2 separate regions of the Homo sapiens genome follow, and region 2 is linked to region 1. The links come from fine-mapping of genetic effects on gene expression. Tissue or cell type: whole blood. Region 1 holds a variant in brackets; the other region holds the start of a gene. All regions are shown on one strand. Distances are between the middles of the regions.

The links. PIP is the estimated chance that this variant, and not a neighbour inherited with it, causes the effect.
Region 2: MRPS33 starts here. The variant in region 1 is fine-mapped to the expression of MRPS33 in whole blood (INTERVAL, PIP 0.90).

Annotation. Positions count from the first base shown.
Region 1 is chr7:140,716,860-140,725,014 of GRCh38, forward strand. It overlaps a transcript of BRAF not described here. Among named protein-coding and RNA genes, the nearest start is that of NDUFB2-AS1, 24 kb to the left of the region's middle. The variant C/G (reference allele first, on the strand shown) is at 3,134.
Region 2 is chr7:141,010,984-141,019,138 of GRCh38, forward strand. MRPS33 (mitochondrial ribosomal protein S33) reads right to left here and starts at 3,969. Exons shown (of 3, transcript NM_053035.3): 1 at 3,928-3,969. RefSeq lists enhancers at 2,408-2,477, 3,620-4,265, 3,728-3,777, 4,298-4,497 and a silencer at 3,842-4,150.

The DNA of each region.
Region 1 (8,155 bases):
AACTATTTTATAGAAGAGGTTGACCCTGTCGCCTGCTGCAACCATTTCACCAGGAGCAATGGTGGGAAACACCAACGTGCAGTGTCAGGGAAATGGGAGCTCCCTGAGGTGGCGTGTGGACCTGCCTCAGCAGGTGCCTTTTGTTTACACTAGCAGTGTCTTCCCAGATTGGTGATGACAACAGTAGGGACAAGTGGAGCATGCCTAACACAACAACCATTTCTGGCTATGAACTCACTGTCATGGAGTCAATACCCATTTCTATCCAAATCTCGTTACAGCCATCGTGACAAAATTATATATCTGTAATATATACCTATGTAAAATGCATGTTACAGATCTTGGGTCCTGGCTACATAAGCCTAGCGAGTCATATCCTTTGGGGCTGCATATTCAGCAACTGATAGGAGAGGAGTTGGACCAGTTTTTTTTTTTCTCTGAAACAGGGTCTTGCTCTGCCGCCCAGGCTGCAGTGCAGTGGTGCAATCACAGCTCACTGCAGCCTTGACCTCCCAGGCTCAAGCAGTCTCCCCCGACCTCAGCTGGGATCACAGGTGCGTGACACCATGCCCAGCTAATTAAATTTTTTTTTTGGCCAGGCTGGTCTGGAACTCCTGGCTTCAAGTGATCCTCCCACTTTAGCCTCCCAAAGTGCTGGGATTTAGGCGTGAGCCATTGAGCCCAACTCAGTGTTAAGAACACTTTTTGCCCTAACATTTTGAGTCTAGGAGAACTATATAACTCAAAAGACAGTAGGTCCAAGTGTCACAGCCCCTGATAAAATTTCAGAAGAGCTAGTGTGGTAGAGTTCTTTATAATACAACTTTATAATAACCAAAGTGTCCATAGTTCTGGGCTAAATTTTAAGGAAAACCTCACATATATGGTATAGTATGTTCTTAAAGCCACATCTACTCTGTTGTAATCACACATGAAGGTTTAGAAAATGAATTTCTATGATGTTTATATTATAGAATTACCATTTTCAGAAGAGAAAAACTGCAGTTCATAGGAAATTAAGTCTTGACATTTATTTTTATTTTTAGCGTGGGTGTCTTGCTATATTGCCCTGGCTTGCCTCAAACTCCTGGGCTCAAGCAATCCTCCTGCCTTAGCCTTTTAAGTCTTGATAACATTTTATTGTTTGGGAGGAGGGGTGAAACCAGATTCCTCAGGCACAAGCCCTTTTTAGGCTTTTCTGTTCCTTCATATTATTCTCAGACATAAGGATAAACAGGTGAAGTGTTTTTTTTGAGACAGAGTCTCGCTCTGTTGCCCAGGCTAGAGTGCAATGGCGTGATCTCAGCTCACTGCAACCTCCGCCTCCCAGGTTCAAGCGATTCTCCTGCCTCAGCCTCCCGAGTAGCTGGGATTACAGGTGCTGGCCACCATGCCCAGCTTTTTTTTATTTCTTTCTGAGATGGAGTTTTGCTCTTGTTGCCCAGGCTGGAGTGCAATGGCACAATCTCGGTCGGCTCACTCCCGGGTTCAAGCGATTCTCCTGCCTCAGCCTCCTGAGTAGCTGGAATTACAGGCATGCGCCACCACAGCCGGATAATTTTGTATTTTTAGGAGAGAGGGGGTTTCTCCATGTTGGTCAGGCTGGTCTCGAACTCCTAACCTCAGGTGATCTGCCTGCCTTGGCCTCCCAAAGTGCTGGGATTACAGGCGTGAGCCACCACACCTGGCCTAATTTTTGTATTTTTTAGTAGAGACAGTTTCACCATGTTGGTCAGGCTAGTCTCCACTCCTGACCTCAGGTGATCCACCCGCCTCGGCCTCCCAAATTGCTGGGATTACAGGCGTGAGCCACTGCACCTGGCTGCAGATGAGTTTTAAAACGGTTTACTTCCTTTCTGGAAACTCTGCCCAGTAATTTGATATATTTTGTCTGAAGATACTCTAGGAGTTTTTCAGACTTCAGTGAATTTTATTTGGGGAAGGGTCATGAAATCAAATGCAGAAAATCAACTCACTGAGGTAACCAGCATAAAAAAAAATGAAGTAGAAAACATGAGTGCATAGTTTCAAGTAAATGTTAGCGTGCGTGTGCTGTGTTGCTATAGAAAATGTAAGCTGTCAAAAGTTTGAAAAAATACAATTCTAAGGTGAGTTTCTGCAGATAAACTTTAAACATGACTAAAGTAGAGCACATACTCCAACTGAACCACATGGAGGAAAGCAGTGGTTTGAAACTAAAGATACATCAGGTCACAACATCTCAAATATTTAAGGGTCATCACCAACACCTGACAAACGACTGTTGCCACTGCAAGTTGTATAGCACGTATAACCTACCATGCATGAAACTTGACAACTTACTTGAACTTCTACCCACTAAGCAGTAACCAACATTATGTATGAAACAAAATGTACATTTCTCAGTCTCTCCATTGTCTAGAAAAACTGTTAAAACTGCTGACTACTTTTGTTACTGAATGTAATCGTGTTAGAAAAATAGTCTTGATGAAGACTTCTCCATGCAGTCAATCTTTATTATAGCAGTATTCGCATATTCACATCAAGTACATAGAACTTTTTTTGCCTTTTATATAATACAGTTTTTAAATAACTTTACACAGAAATAAATTTCTTCAATCTGAATTTCAGCTATCTTTTTTTATTCTCCATGCTTTCTATCCAAACTGAACAATATTTTCTGTTATACAAATTTACATGAGAAAAACTCCAAAGTACAAATGAAGGGACCTGAGCAGGAAAGAGAACCAAAGTATCAGGAAGTGGGTATGGGGGAGAATTAAAAAAAATAATAAAAGATTCAAGCAAACATTGAGAATAGGGGAAAAGAGGGAGACATCATCCATTTGACTGAAAATAAATGTCTTTTTTATGAATTGAAAAATAAGCTTTAAAAATAGTTACTCCATTGTAATTTTTGCAAAGCAGGTATAGAGAGGTCTGTGGACAATTAAAAAGTCCCCATCTTTTCACTGGGCACGCCCCAGACTCCACGAGAACCTTTTCAATGCTTGAGTGGAACTGAAGTGTACTAAACCCGAACCTTTGGCAGTAACAGAAAAGAGGAATGTGTGTGTGAGTCGCCATAAGGTTTGGAGTGGTGAAACAGGAACCGTGAATTCACTGCAGTTCAAACAGGAAGCATCTCCCTTTC[C/G]TCTCCCTTACAGGAGTCATGTCCTCAAACCAAGGAATACATGAAAAGGGGGGATTTCCTTTTTCTTGGTCTAAACCAAAGAGCAATGACAACTACTGAATAAAATTCAGAGACACATGTTGATGAATGATCAAATTCAATCCCCTGATCAGTTGTATGATCCTATCTTAGGAAAGGCAGCAATTGCCATGTTGAGGAAAGGATCAGATGTACAACCAACAAATGAGATTACCACAAATACATATCACTGTGATACAGTCCTCAAAAATCAGGCGATATCATGAAGGCCAAACTGAGTCTATATATGTGGCATGGCCAAAGGAAACACGGAGGACCCATGGATGCATTTTAAAATGAAGGCAGGAGAAGGGGACAGCACAGAGACATACACCCCTGTATGTAAACTAACATAACATGAAGATAAATAAGACATAAAGGCTAGCCACTTACGTTGGTCATTAACATGAATAAAAAGGCATTATATGTTGATATAGCTGGTTTTAATCAGCTATGGAACATACACAAATGTATTAGGAAGGAATGATTCTTAAAAAAACCGTTCACAGCTTAGAATAAAAAGCATACTTATTGCACTCTTACATTTGATTTCAGGTAATTACAGTTTATTTCCCACCCTCACATTAATTTTTCCCTATCCTAGATTTACTGCCACCTCACCCCATTTTGGTCTCTGTTCTCTACATCTGTGCCTACTCTGTGAGCTTTGTTGTTTATGCTAGTTTGCAGTGACTTCCAACTCATACTCCACCAAAACACACGTGGGTTCAAAAACTTAACACAAAAATGCAACGCAGTAATTTTCAAAACAAAACCAGGACTAAGCAACTTCATCAAAACCCCCAATCCCACCCGTCAACAGACCCTTCCTTTGCGGCATCTCTTCACAAATTTTCTGCCAACTCTCCCGCATATGTGCTGTACATGAGAACCAGCGGTCACGGTGCTGGAGAATGAACTCGGCTGGCCGGGAGAAGCAGATGGTTTGTACAAACATTTTTTGATACTACCATGAATAAACATATTTTAGTTGTTTTCAGAGCACTTCTATCTACAGAATTCTTTAAAAAAAAATGCACCTCTAAAAAATGGATACACTGGCTTACATTGGCTGTGTCCTCATACACACTCGTCAAGTCACTATAATTATTCAAAATAGCTAAATAAATGTCAACATTTTAATAAAGCTGATTTAGTAATTAATAAAACTTAACAGTTGAAGTTGTGGATGTTAAATAAAAGTACTTTAGTCACTCATTGAGTTGCCGACTAATTGCCCCATGCATTTTTTTTTTTTAAAGCACTGTTACCTTAATTTAAGATTTTAGGAGTTGGGTTTCTGTCCTTTTCCACATTAAAAATACCTGATAGGAACTGTTAATTACCCTTTCCACAATTAACAAAAATTAGAATTGAATTTCAATTTAAATGTCTTTGCCCAAACAAAAGTGAAAATAGGTTATTTGAAAACAACAAAACAGAGCTTACTGTCTAGTGTACTAATAAAACAAACATCTTACCAGTATTTTTAATTTTACCAGAGCTAGCAACATGGACCACAGATATACTGGTGACTCCGCTCTCCTCTGGCCAAGCTACAAATCATCACCTGAGGCAGAGATGCTACTACCCTCTTCTGGGGCTCAACTACCGATGGGCATCAGTAATCCATCCCAGTATAACATTTCAAGGATGTGCTGGAGACAATACATGGACTTTCTCTTTCAATGGTGAGGAATGAAACAAGATACAAGAACCACAGCATGGAATATGTTTTCTTTTACATCCAATGGCCAGGTCATAAAGGATGCCTTGAGACCTCCACCCTGGCCCCCACAGCGCTTTGGGACAGGATGACTAACGCAGTCCAGCTTCATGTGCAATCAAGTCCCGGGAAGAAATTTACATTTCAAACTCTGAAAAATCAGTGTCTAGGTTGGCAGCAGTACTCTGGAAACTGATAAAACCAAATTCGGTCCTATATTTCAATTTCCCCTTCTAAGTTAATACATGATTGCTGCCCATCATACAGTACTTCAACCCTAAACTACAGCAATTTCTGTCAACATTTCTGTTGTATAAAAGTTCCATGCTTTGAAGAGCCTATGGGAGTAGAAAAAGTTTCTCTAGAAATGTCACTGAACTATATTTGCAACCTAGTTGCTCTATGTGATAAATATATCTGACTATACTAGGGATTATGTGCTTTAAAAAAATAATTTTGTTCACTGAAAATTTACCTGTGTGTTTTCTCATTGTTAAATGTGATTTTGGCTATAAACTCTTTAGTGCATTTACCTATGCAGTCTAAATTGCACTCTAAAAATTATTAACACAGCTGAGTTAAACCAGAGTGGCTGCTCTCTTCACAAATCACTGATTTCTGCTAAAATGTTAGCTTTTTTATTGCATCATGAAGGCACAGTAAGATCATTTGGCAAATTGTCAAGGTATTTTTCTAGAGCCTCACCTACACCATTTCAACTCATGACCTGTAAGCTATTTGCTGTTCATACTCACAGTAAACCTTCCATCTCTGGCTATGGTGTTTATAGCCTAATGGTTGGAATCTGCTCGTCTCAAGGTGCTGGTATTCCTAGCACTAACAATGCCAACTTGGACAAAGAAGAGAATCTTGCAAAAAGAGTAATCATTCTACCCTCTTAGCTGGGTGGTCTTTCTATGAATGCCTGTGCATGTGACAAAGCTGCAGCAAACTCATTATGAGGATGTACTGTCATGCCAAGCCTACTGAAAATTAAAATTACATCACTGTTAGTGAAGTGATACCACAGCTATTTAATTTCATGCAATTGACTCAAGGTTAAGATTCTGAAACGTACCCCTAAACCGGTTCTGGCACCACTTTCAACAACATTCAGATATTCCGAGCAACACATTTTTTTACAGTATTACTGCTTAAATGTATAATGCCCTTTAGGACAAAATGAGAGTGCTCAAATACAAGTACACAAAAAAGTTAAAATCTTAAATCATCGTCATGTTCTAGAGCTCCTGACTTTTCATATTTTAAAATAAATAACTATTCATTACCTCATTCTGAAGAGGTAGTTTTTTGTAGAGGTCACCTGAACCCTGCAATGTGGTTTCGAACTAAAGCTAGAGATGAGGTTTGCAAGCAGCTGGCGGGTGGATGTACAGTGGGGACAGGTGAGATCTGAGGAGGATGTGCAGCAGCTCGCACTCCGCCTGGTGAATACAAGGTAACATCCTGTGATGAAAGTGCTGTCACCGCACCAAACCAGAAGCTAGGAAATATTTACAAAGTTTCAGGTTGACAGTGCTGCAGTCTTGAATTATTTCTTTATATACTGCTCTTTCTTCTCCAACACCAACATAAATATAGCATATATCATTTGTATGGGATTTTATCTTCTAAAATGCCCCAGTATGCCCTACTAGATCTCAAATACAATCAGGGGTGAGATATTCGGGAACCAGAATTTGACAGCTAGACAGAATCTTCTTTTAAGGTGCACATTAACAACAAATGATCACACTGAATTTTCTATTCACAAATCCCTTTTATAAACTATTTTTTTGGTCAATATTATTTCAGTGGCAAAAGTCTAGGTCCTTGACTCTAACGATGAAAAAAGTCCATCAGGAATACTACACAGTTACAAACAATCCTCTGTAGTTGCTCTCAAATTTTTCAGAAGGCTTCACCTCTCCCTACCAAAAATAAAACACACTACAGAAGGCACTGCAGCCACTTTACAGACAAGACTGTTACACCCTTACAAGATGATCAGTGACGCAGCCACATACTGTCTATACAATTACTCATAAAGTGCTTTTCACAAATAAGGACTTCTTCCTCGTTTTTTTAGGAGCTCAGTAAGTCTAACTGTTGTCTAAGCATCAAAAAATAAAGCAGATAAAACACAAATAAAACCTATTTTCATGTCATTTGTAAACTAGAGAAAAAACCTATTTCATAGAAAAAGGAAGAAAAGAGAGGTTTAAATATTTTATTTTTTAAGGTATCTATAAAAATCTCAATATGCTAAGCCTGGCTCCTGGGCACAGCTTCATTTGAGATCAAGTCTGCTCCCCCGTTCAAATGAGATACCAGCCTATTCTAAAATGCAAGGGAAGAAAAAGTGTATCACCCTGAATATTGTTTAAGAAACTGAAATGCTAAGCTTCCTCCCTAATGGTACCGCCCCTGCCCCTGCCCCACGGAGGCAGTCCCGGACCCAGGCTGCACATGTTCTACCTCCTCAGCAGGACATGAAACACATCCTCTTGTTCAAGCCCAGGTCTCTCTACCTGCGGAAACTTGAAGCCAATCTTGGTAAAGGGAACACAGCCACATTTAAAAGCATCTAGAGATATATTTAAAAAGAAAAAACAGCCAATGCTTTTCAAGAGAGGCAGTATTATTGCACAGAAGATGTTCTTCAAATCAGCGTGAATTATTTCCACCTTTGCAATTTCTGAATTTTGTAAGACACTGCCCTGCTGATGTAAAACTTAAAAACAAATTTGCTTTTCAAACTGATTAATAACTTAAGGATCTTTTCCATTTTACTAGGACAACCTTTTACAAGACAATGAAAATTTCAATAGGCTTTCTTCTGAATACATGTATGTTAGCAAAAATCTAATGGTAGTGAGCTTTTAGTGGCTGCAATATAGACAGCAGGGCCTGGAGTTACAATCTGAAATTTTTAAATAACAATTTCTAATTCCTTGATTTATTCTGGGTCTTGTTTAATTTCTTTCAAGTCCTTGGCTATAGCTTGGTTGGTCTGATTTGATTTGTGTTCCTAAATTCTGAGTCTAGATTCCTGATAAGGGAGGTTTTCCATTAATTTGCCATTAATACATCCGCTTTCTTTGCTATGACTGTGATTGATATTACCCTTTAATAAAGGCCAAAGGAAGCTATAACTAGGTTATATTTTCCATTTGTGCAAAGATAAGATTTAGGTTCTTAATGAATGCCAGTTCTTTCTATAAAAACAACTGATGACA
Region 2 (8,155 bases), 290 kb after region 1:
GGAAACAAGTTATCCTAATCCAGCATCATTATACCTTCAGAAAACACCCACCTAAGCAATCTGCAGCATTAATATGCTGACTGCTTGCCATCAAAAGGTGTAATCATGGCAGAGACATAATTATGTTGTCTTTACTATCAGTCCTTTGAACACTGTTCTCCTCAAGGGCTCCAGAAGGCTCTGAGAGCTGCTAATGAGTTATGAGGTCATTTGGCTTCTAGGTTACTGAACTGAATTTTGCCTAGAGACTGAGAGCCATTTGGGAAAAACAGACAGTAGCCCTATAAAAATAAATCCAATAGCTCAAAAGATCCATTTTCTTACTAAATAGAAGGCACGTATGAATTGTAAGGTTACTTGCTGTATCCTCCATCTTATATATTCTGCTTTAATGCAAACTACCTAAGTTCTTATCAGCTGGAAACAGTAGCTTTTTCTTCAGAGACATACAACACTGAAATGGGTATAAGAATGATATCCGTGATATGCACGAATTACAGCTAACAGACATAAAAAACTATACAGGGGATACATAAAAATCAAGAAAGCTGCTGGTGGAATAACTATCTCAACTCAGTTTAGACCAGACGTAGGGGTTATTGTTGGCAGAATATGCCAATTTATGAGAAATTTTAGTAGTGAGATGAGAATCTTTGCTGACTCAGAGACTATCCTGGGAAACAGTTCAGCTGAGATGAAAAGGTGCTGATATTCAAGCAGGAAAAAGGCATAAACTTTGAAAAACCAATGGGAGAAATGTACCAAAAACCCTCCTACATAAAAATGGTGCCAAGTGAATTTCAAAATAGTTCTTGTAAGAAAACAAACCGTGTTTAAATTAAGGAAGTTTTAATGCCTGTTTCAAGATCCATTAACAGAGGAGGCTGGGCATGGTAGCTCATGCCTATAATCCCAGTACTTTGAGAGGCTGAGGTGGGAGGATCGCTTGAGGTCAGGACTTCAAGACCAGCCCAGGCAACATGGAGAAATCTTGTTTTTACAGAAAAAAAAACAAAAAACAAAAGAAAATAAGAAAATTAGTCTGCTATGGTAGTGCACACCTGTAGTTCCAGCTACTCGTGGAGGCTGAGGAGGGGGACATCACTTGAGCACAGGAGTTTGAGGTTACACTAAGTTATGACTGCACTACTGTACTCTATAGCCTGAGTGACAGAGCAAGATTGTGTGTCAAAAAAAAAAAAAAAAAAAAAGCAGAGGCTGATCTCAAACCACTGTCAACCTCAAAACCATTCAGAACACCAACCAAGCAATTTTGGGTCAATAGTGCCACCTGAAGGCTGGCAACGGTAGAACTGTCAGATCCAACGTCCACCCCTCCCTCCCCACCATCTGCAGATCACCTACAAGCCTGTTCTTCCTTTTCCATTCAGCATTCTCAGTTTCCTGATTCACTTCTTTGCCAACTCTGGTTGGGGGTGGGGTTGTTAGGACTAGGGTTATAGTCTCAAGGTGAAAAAAATTCATTTAGCAGTTTAATGTATAAACAAATCAGTGCCATAAACCTCTAAAAAGCCTTGCAAATGTCCAGAGTCACCTAGTTTCTTTGCATGCTTTTTCTCTTCCTTTGCCCTTTAAAGTTACCTTTTTCCAAACATTAGATTAAAAAACAATAGTTGCTTCATCAACTTTGCTTTGTTTGCTTAATTACCATTGTGGCATCAGAATATATTTCTGCTGTAATTGCACAGTATTTCCACAGTTAGTTATCTGTAAGCTGGTATGGGAACTATCAGTTTGTTACAGTGTTTTCAGGAAAATCTGTTCTGAATTCCAAGTCCCTTTATTTGTCAATGAAGAGGCAACAGGGATTCCTGAGGCCTAGGTTTGACTACTGGCTCTGTCACTTAATCCTTGGGTTATTGTGAACAGTTACTCATCTTCTCTGAGTCTCCTTTTCTGAAAACAAAGCTTGCATGACTAGTGCGAAAATGAGTAACAGTGGCACTGAGTAGTAAATGGTAACTTACAAAAAAGAACGAGCCCAGATCTGTAAGTTTGGTTTTCATATATTCTACATAGACACATTTGTTTATTCCTTGTTCTTAATCATGTTTAAGAAAAAAAAAAAAAGAGAGAGAGACAGACAGATAGATACTCCATATAGTAAAAACTTTGTGCCTCCCTGGAATGATGACCTCATTTACAAAGACTGACAGCCAGAGAAACATAGGGAGAGGACCAGCACCTTGATAACTTGACAAGATAGCCAGGAGGAGGAAGGGACTCAGTAGGACAGTAGTCACTGAAGCCATCACAGGATGCTGCTGTTATGTCCATGCCCATTTTGGAATGTGGCAAATTACTGGGATACATAACTTGTAAGTAAAAAGGTCACACTAGAATAGGCTGGAACATGGTTATATCATAAAATCCAAGTCCTAAAGTTTTATGACAGAGAAAGGGAATAAGCCTTTTCAAACCTGAATCCCTTACTAGAAACAAAGGCCCACTTGCTAAACAGGAGGAAACTGAAAGTGGTTTTAACAATTACCAATGACACTGCTTTGTTGTTTCCTTCCACAGTGCACAGACACATGTCTCTCACGAAGAATAACACGGGAGCTTTTCTTACAACGTGCATGTCAATTACATTTTGATTCACATGAAACCATTCTCGGGGAGTACAAGTCACTTTAAGTGTTACCTTTCTTTAAATGTGAACTAAAGAAAACTGTACTCTCATGAAAAAAGTTAACTGGAGCTGAAAATGCTAAGCAAAAACAAATTACTCAAATGTGCTGAGCAAAACAAATTAAGCCCACATGAGAAGAAAATTCCCATATTTTTACTTTGGCATAACAGGGCAAACTTCTTTGATCTTTTTGATAGGTCTGATGCATTTAAAAGATTATTTCAATAAGTGGCTTTGTATTAGGTTTGCCTTTTCTCTTTGAAAGGTAAAGATGAAGTGCAAGAGTTCTTAACCGGGATGTGCTTCAGCGTTTTGAAAACAGTGGAAGTGTACATCTGTATGCCGATATGTGTATGTATGTGTGTGTGTAAATTGTTCTGGGAGAGAGCTTTCTCCAGTTTCCCAAAAACCATTGGTTAGCAGAACGCACCAGCTGCAGAATAAAAAAGCTGGTTGGAATCTCGCCTCTGCCTTTTAATGGCCACGTCGTTTTTGTAATGGTGCTTATTCTCTGCCAGGTTCTCTCATCGACTACACGAGGACAGTCATACTATCTGCGATGTGAAGCTAATATGCAAAATTCACGGCACAGTGCCCACCCTAATAACCATCAGGATCCAAGGAATTCACATACAGTGTACACACGTTGTCATAGAAACAATCTAAACATAAAAACAATCTCAACAGAATGCTTAAAAACAAAAAAACCCGGTACCGATTATTTTACGGAGTCATAGAGGCATCAACGGCACTGAAAATGTATTAGCTGCATTCAGTTCATCAAGAACAATCTTCAACTCCCTCCACCTGACTCGATCATGCCTGACTGTGATGGAAACTGTAGTATTGTCAAGTCAACCGATGTTTGACTCGGGAGCGCATTTCGCAAATATTTTTCTTAAATATCACCTTACCGTATTTTTCTTAAGGTGGTTACAAAATTAATCTGCAGCCCACCACCCAAAGCTACAGTGCCGAAGGCCGTGTGATGAGCAGAGAAACTGAGCCTTCTACTGTTAACCAATATGGAAGAGAGTAATTGCGCCTGAGAGGAAATTACGGCAGCGGAAACGCGGGTATTCTACGTTTAAGAAATCCCCCAACTGAGGCAGAAAAAGGCCAAGTTATTTGTGTGATGCACGTGAACCGCCCGAGCTGGTCACTAATGAAGTGGATTCGCCCTATTCCTGGCGACTCTACAAGGTTGGAGACCCCCGTAGACTTCGCAGCCATCGCCCCTTGCTGCAGACCCCCAAAGTCACCGACAGCCTTACCTAGACCTGACCTTCCTCACCCACGCGCCCTCGTCCCGGAAGGCCCGCCCTCTACCCGGCTCCAAGCTCGCGCAGGCAACTATTACGGGGAGCAGTAGAGAAACGGAAGCTTGGCAGCTAGAGCGGAGCCCTAGTGAACGACCCGGAGTTACTGGCTCCCCCTCCTGAGGCCTCCGAGGTGTACCTGGCGCCTGCGCAGTAAGGCTAGCGCCGCCGCCTGTGCGGAGGACCCGGGGAGGTGGTGGGCTGGGGAGAGTTAGAAAGGTCTGGCTCTCCTGGAAGGGCATGCACGGTTCGGTAGTATGTTTTGGTGGGAATGGCTACAGACCTGCCTCCAAAAGCTCTGAAGCAATGGCGATGCGTGTGCCGTGTGGTCTTTCTGACCGACTTGCGGCGCCATCCCCCTCCCCTTCCATCTATCTGCTCATCTTCTAATAGTTAATTAGGATCCCTAGCTGCAAGCCTTCCTTGCTACTGGGTTAGGAGCGCTTTCCCCCATTGACCCAGGAGCTTCTTCAGGGAGTAGGGGATGGAACGTTTGTCTCCTCAGTAGTTATCTTAGACCTCGCTGGGCAGATAGTAGAAAGCATTGTGAGTATTTCACCCCATACTAAATCTGTTTTCAAGCAAGCCACATCCCATAGGCATTGTATGCAGCACTTACTCAATGTTTGATAGTTTGGGTGAGGAAACTGTACTCGTTTTCTGAGTATCGTTCAAGGCATTTTATAAATATTTCAAAATGTACCCTGGAATTAATATCGGTAGTGAGTTGCCTACCTAGTGGGTATTGTATTTACACCCTCTTTCCTCCTACAGAATTTACTTTTAAGTTAGAATTTGACGTCTAATCAATCTATGCTATAGGATTTGCTTTTATCAAGTTAAGTTTTGACATGTTATCAGCCTTATATGATATAGTAAACAGCCTTATAAAGTTGGGTCTAGTGACTACATTTAAGTTTACAAAGGGGTAATGAGTATCCTATACATGGCTACAGTCCAGAAAAGAAGTCCTAAGGAGCGAAACTCCTGGGAGAAATTTCGTCTTGTCTTTTGTACTTGTTTCTGTGGAGTTGGCTTGTTTTTATGTAATGGCCACTGAATCATATAAACAAGAAGACTTCCTTTACGTGTAAGCTGCTGGTTTAAAGCCAAATTTTAATTGGCTCGAGGCAAGAGCTATATATATGTGTGTGTATATATATATATACACACACATATATATATTTTTTGCATAAACCTTGTTGGCTTCGTTTTGTATATCCTTCCTGTTTTTTCCTTTTCACGTATGAATTATTGGTGTTATCAATGTTTTGTGAATTACTATAAGCTACCATAAATCTTTCTTGAAACATAGCTAGGTATATAGAGTTTCAGGTGACTGTTTAGGTACTTTGCACTATCACTTTTATTAAGTCAATTTCATGGGGGTTCATATTAGTTTCCTGAGGCTGCTATAATAAAATACCACAAACTTGGTGTTGTAGAGCAACTGAAATTTATTATCTTACAGTTCTAGAGGCCATAAATTCAAAATCAGCATCACTGGGCCAAAATCAAGATGTTGACAGGGCTGTGTTCCCTCCAGAGACTCTAGGGGAGAATCAGTTCTTTGACTCTTCCAGCTTCTGGTGGCTGCTGGCATTCATTGGCTTGTGGCCACATCACTTTAGACTTCAAGGCCAACATCTTCACATCTCTGCTCCCTTTTCACATTGCCTTCACTATGTGTGTCAGACTTCCCATTGCCTCCCTTTTAGGAATGTGTAATTGCATTTAAGGCCCATGGAGCTAATCCAAAATACTCTCTCAATCTGAAGATCCTTAATTTAGTCACATCTTCAAAGGCCTTTTCCCCGTATCTGGTAACATTTGCAGGTCCCAGGGATTAGACTCTGTTATCTTTGGGGAACAGTTTTAGCCTACCACAGGATTAGAAGGAGTAAGCCATTGAAATTGGCCAATCAGAGACTGTTACTTATCAATAGGAAAGTTGGAATATTAGGGATGGAAAAATGAAATGAATAGAATAAAATTGAACCTCCTATGGATATTGACTTCACCAGACCTTGGCTTACCCATTTACACCGCCAAGATAATGCAGTTTTAAGAGCACTTTTTATAATCAGAGATTGCTCTATAAATCAGATATTTCCTTATATATTTCTATTTTCTGTAGTCCTGTGTTTTCCAATTGTGTGCTGTGAATCATTAGTTGGCTGTGAAATCAATTTAGTGAATAGAGACCAGCATTAAAAGAAAGACATTAGGATAAAAAATATCTAAATGCATCACATGTAGTAGGGGTAATTATTGTTTCATGAAACAATATGTATATGTGCATTGGATCATAATATAAATATATTTCTTGCTGTAGGTTGTGGTAAAATGGAAAGCCTCCACTTTAAGTGATTTCATTATTCATCATACTCTTTGGCAAATGTTCTTTGTCATTAGGCAGGGCAAGAATTAAAGCTACATCAACTTAAAGTTCTTATGGTGTGGCATAGTCCAAGGGGCAGGGGAATATTTATTGCTTTAAGTAAATCAATTTACAGATACCGTATTTTCATAAGTATTCTTTCTTAGCATCATGTAGGTTCTTTTTTACATCTGCATTTACAGTAGTTCTTGGACCTTACAAAAGAAAGGTATATCCATCACTGAAGGTGTGAGGGATATACCTTCCAGGATGACAGATGAAAGGAAGATTCAAAATGTTTTGGAGGAAGCTTCCTCTAATGATCAATCAAGGCACCATCAACCCTTCTTAGGCTTCATGTCTTTTCCTATCTTACATATATTCCACTTAAGGGTGAAGTACGGCTGTCAGAAATATGGTAATTGGTTTGTTGTGATTTTCTGAAATCAGATATACTGTGTGAATGTTAGTGGTAAGAGTGACAGTAATTTTCCTTTAACCATCAGATGTCTTCCATCCTCTGTTGAAAAGTGCAGTGTTTTTGAAGGAGAATCTGGTAAGAGCAGAGCAAAGCAGCACTGAAGAAAGTATCGAAGCCAATTTTTTTTCCCGTATATTTAAACCTAAGCAATTCTTTTCAGCTATTCTCAGTACTTCTCCATAGGATATAGCATTATCTGGAAAGAAAAGCAACTCTGAACAGCTGAAGTAGTAGAGCTTTGTGACAGATTTTTTTTTTTTTTTTTTTTTTGGAGAGAGTCTCACTCTGTTGCCCAGGCTGGAGTGCAGTGGCATGATCTCGGCTCACTGCAACCTTCGTCTCCTGGGTCCAAGCAATTCTTGTGCCTCAGCCTCCTGAATAGCTGGGATTACAGACACCTGCCACCACGCCCAGCTAATTTTTGTATTTTTAGTAGAGACAGAATTTTGCCATGTTGGCCAGGCTGGTCTTAAACTCCTGACCTTAGGTGATCCACCTGCCTCCATCTTCCAAAGTGCTGGGATTACAGATGGGAGCCATCGCCCCTGGCCGTGACACTGATCATTATAAATATCATACAGATCATTTTCAGGTACCTTCATATTTTTCACATTGCACTGGAATAAACTGTGCAAAAGTCATACATAATTTTATTTTAGATTTGGTGTGTGTTGTTCAATGAATGTGAAAATGTATTGTGATAATCACTGATACAGTTCACCAAATCTTTTCCATTTCCTTCCACTTTGGCTAGATTGTATTTCATGGGAATTCTGAGATTGGTTAGGATCATGGTTAGGACTTTTTCTGGCCAATGAGTTATGAGCAGATGTGAAGCGTCACCTTCCGATTAAGGTGGTTATTTACCCTGATGAAACTCCAGAGCTCTCCTTCCCTTCTGAGACAGAGAGTTGTTGCACTGTCAGCCTGTGCTCCTGAGTTGTTATGAAGGGCTGATCCTATTCCACCAGCCATATTGGAAATATAGCTTTTGTTAGAAATGAGCCGTTGTTGTTTTAATTCACATGCCTCTGTTTTAAGTCATACAAATTTGTTGTTTGTTATTGGAGCATGACCTAGCCTATCTTGTCTGATACACTTATTTTTATCAAATTCTATTATGAAATAGAGAAATACTTCAATCCTGACTTTCTTTCTGCCTCTTATTAACAAAAATAAAATTATGCTTTAGCTTCTAGGCTGATTACTTTTTAAATAGCATATTCTTTTATTCTTCATTAAATATATAGGAAACATTTTGATTATGATTTCCAAAAAATTGTTTAGAGCTATTCTAGAATATTTATATATTATTCTTCTTC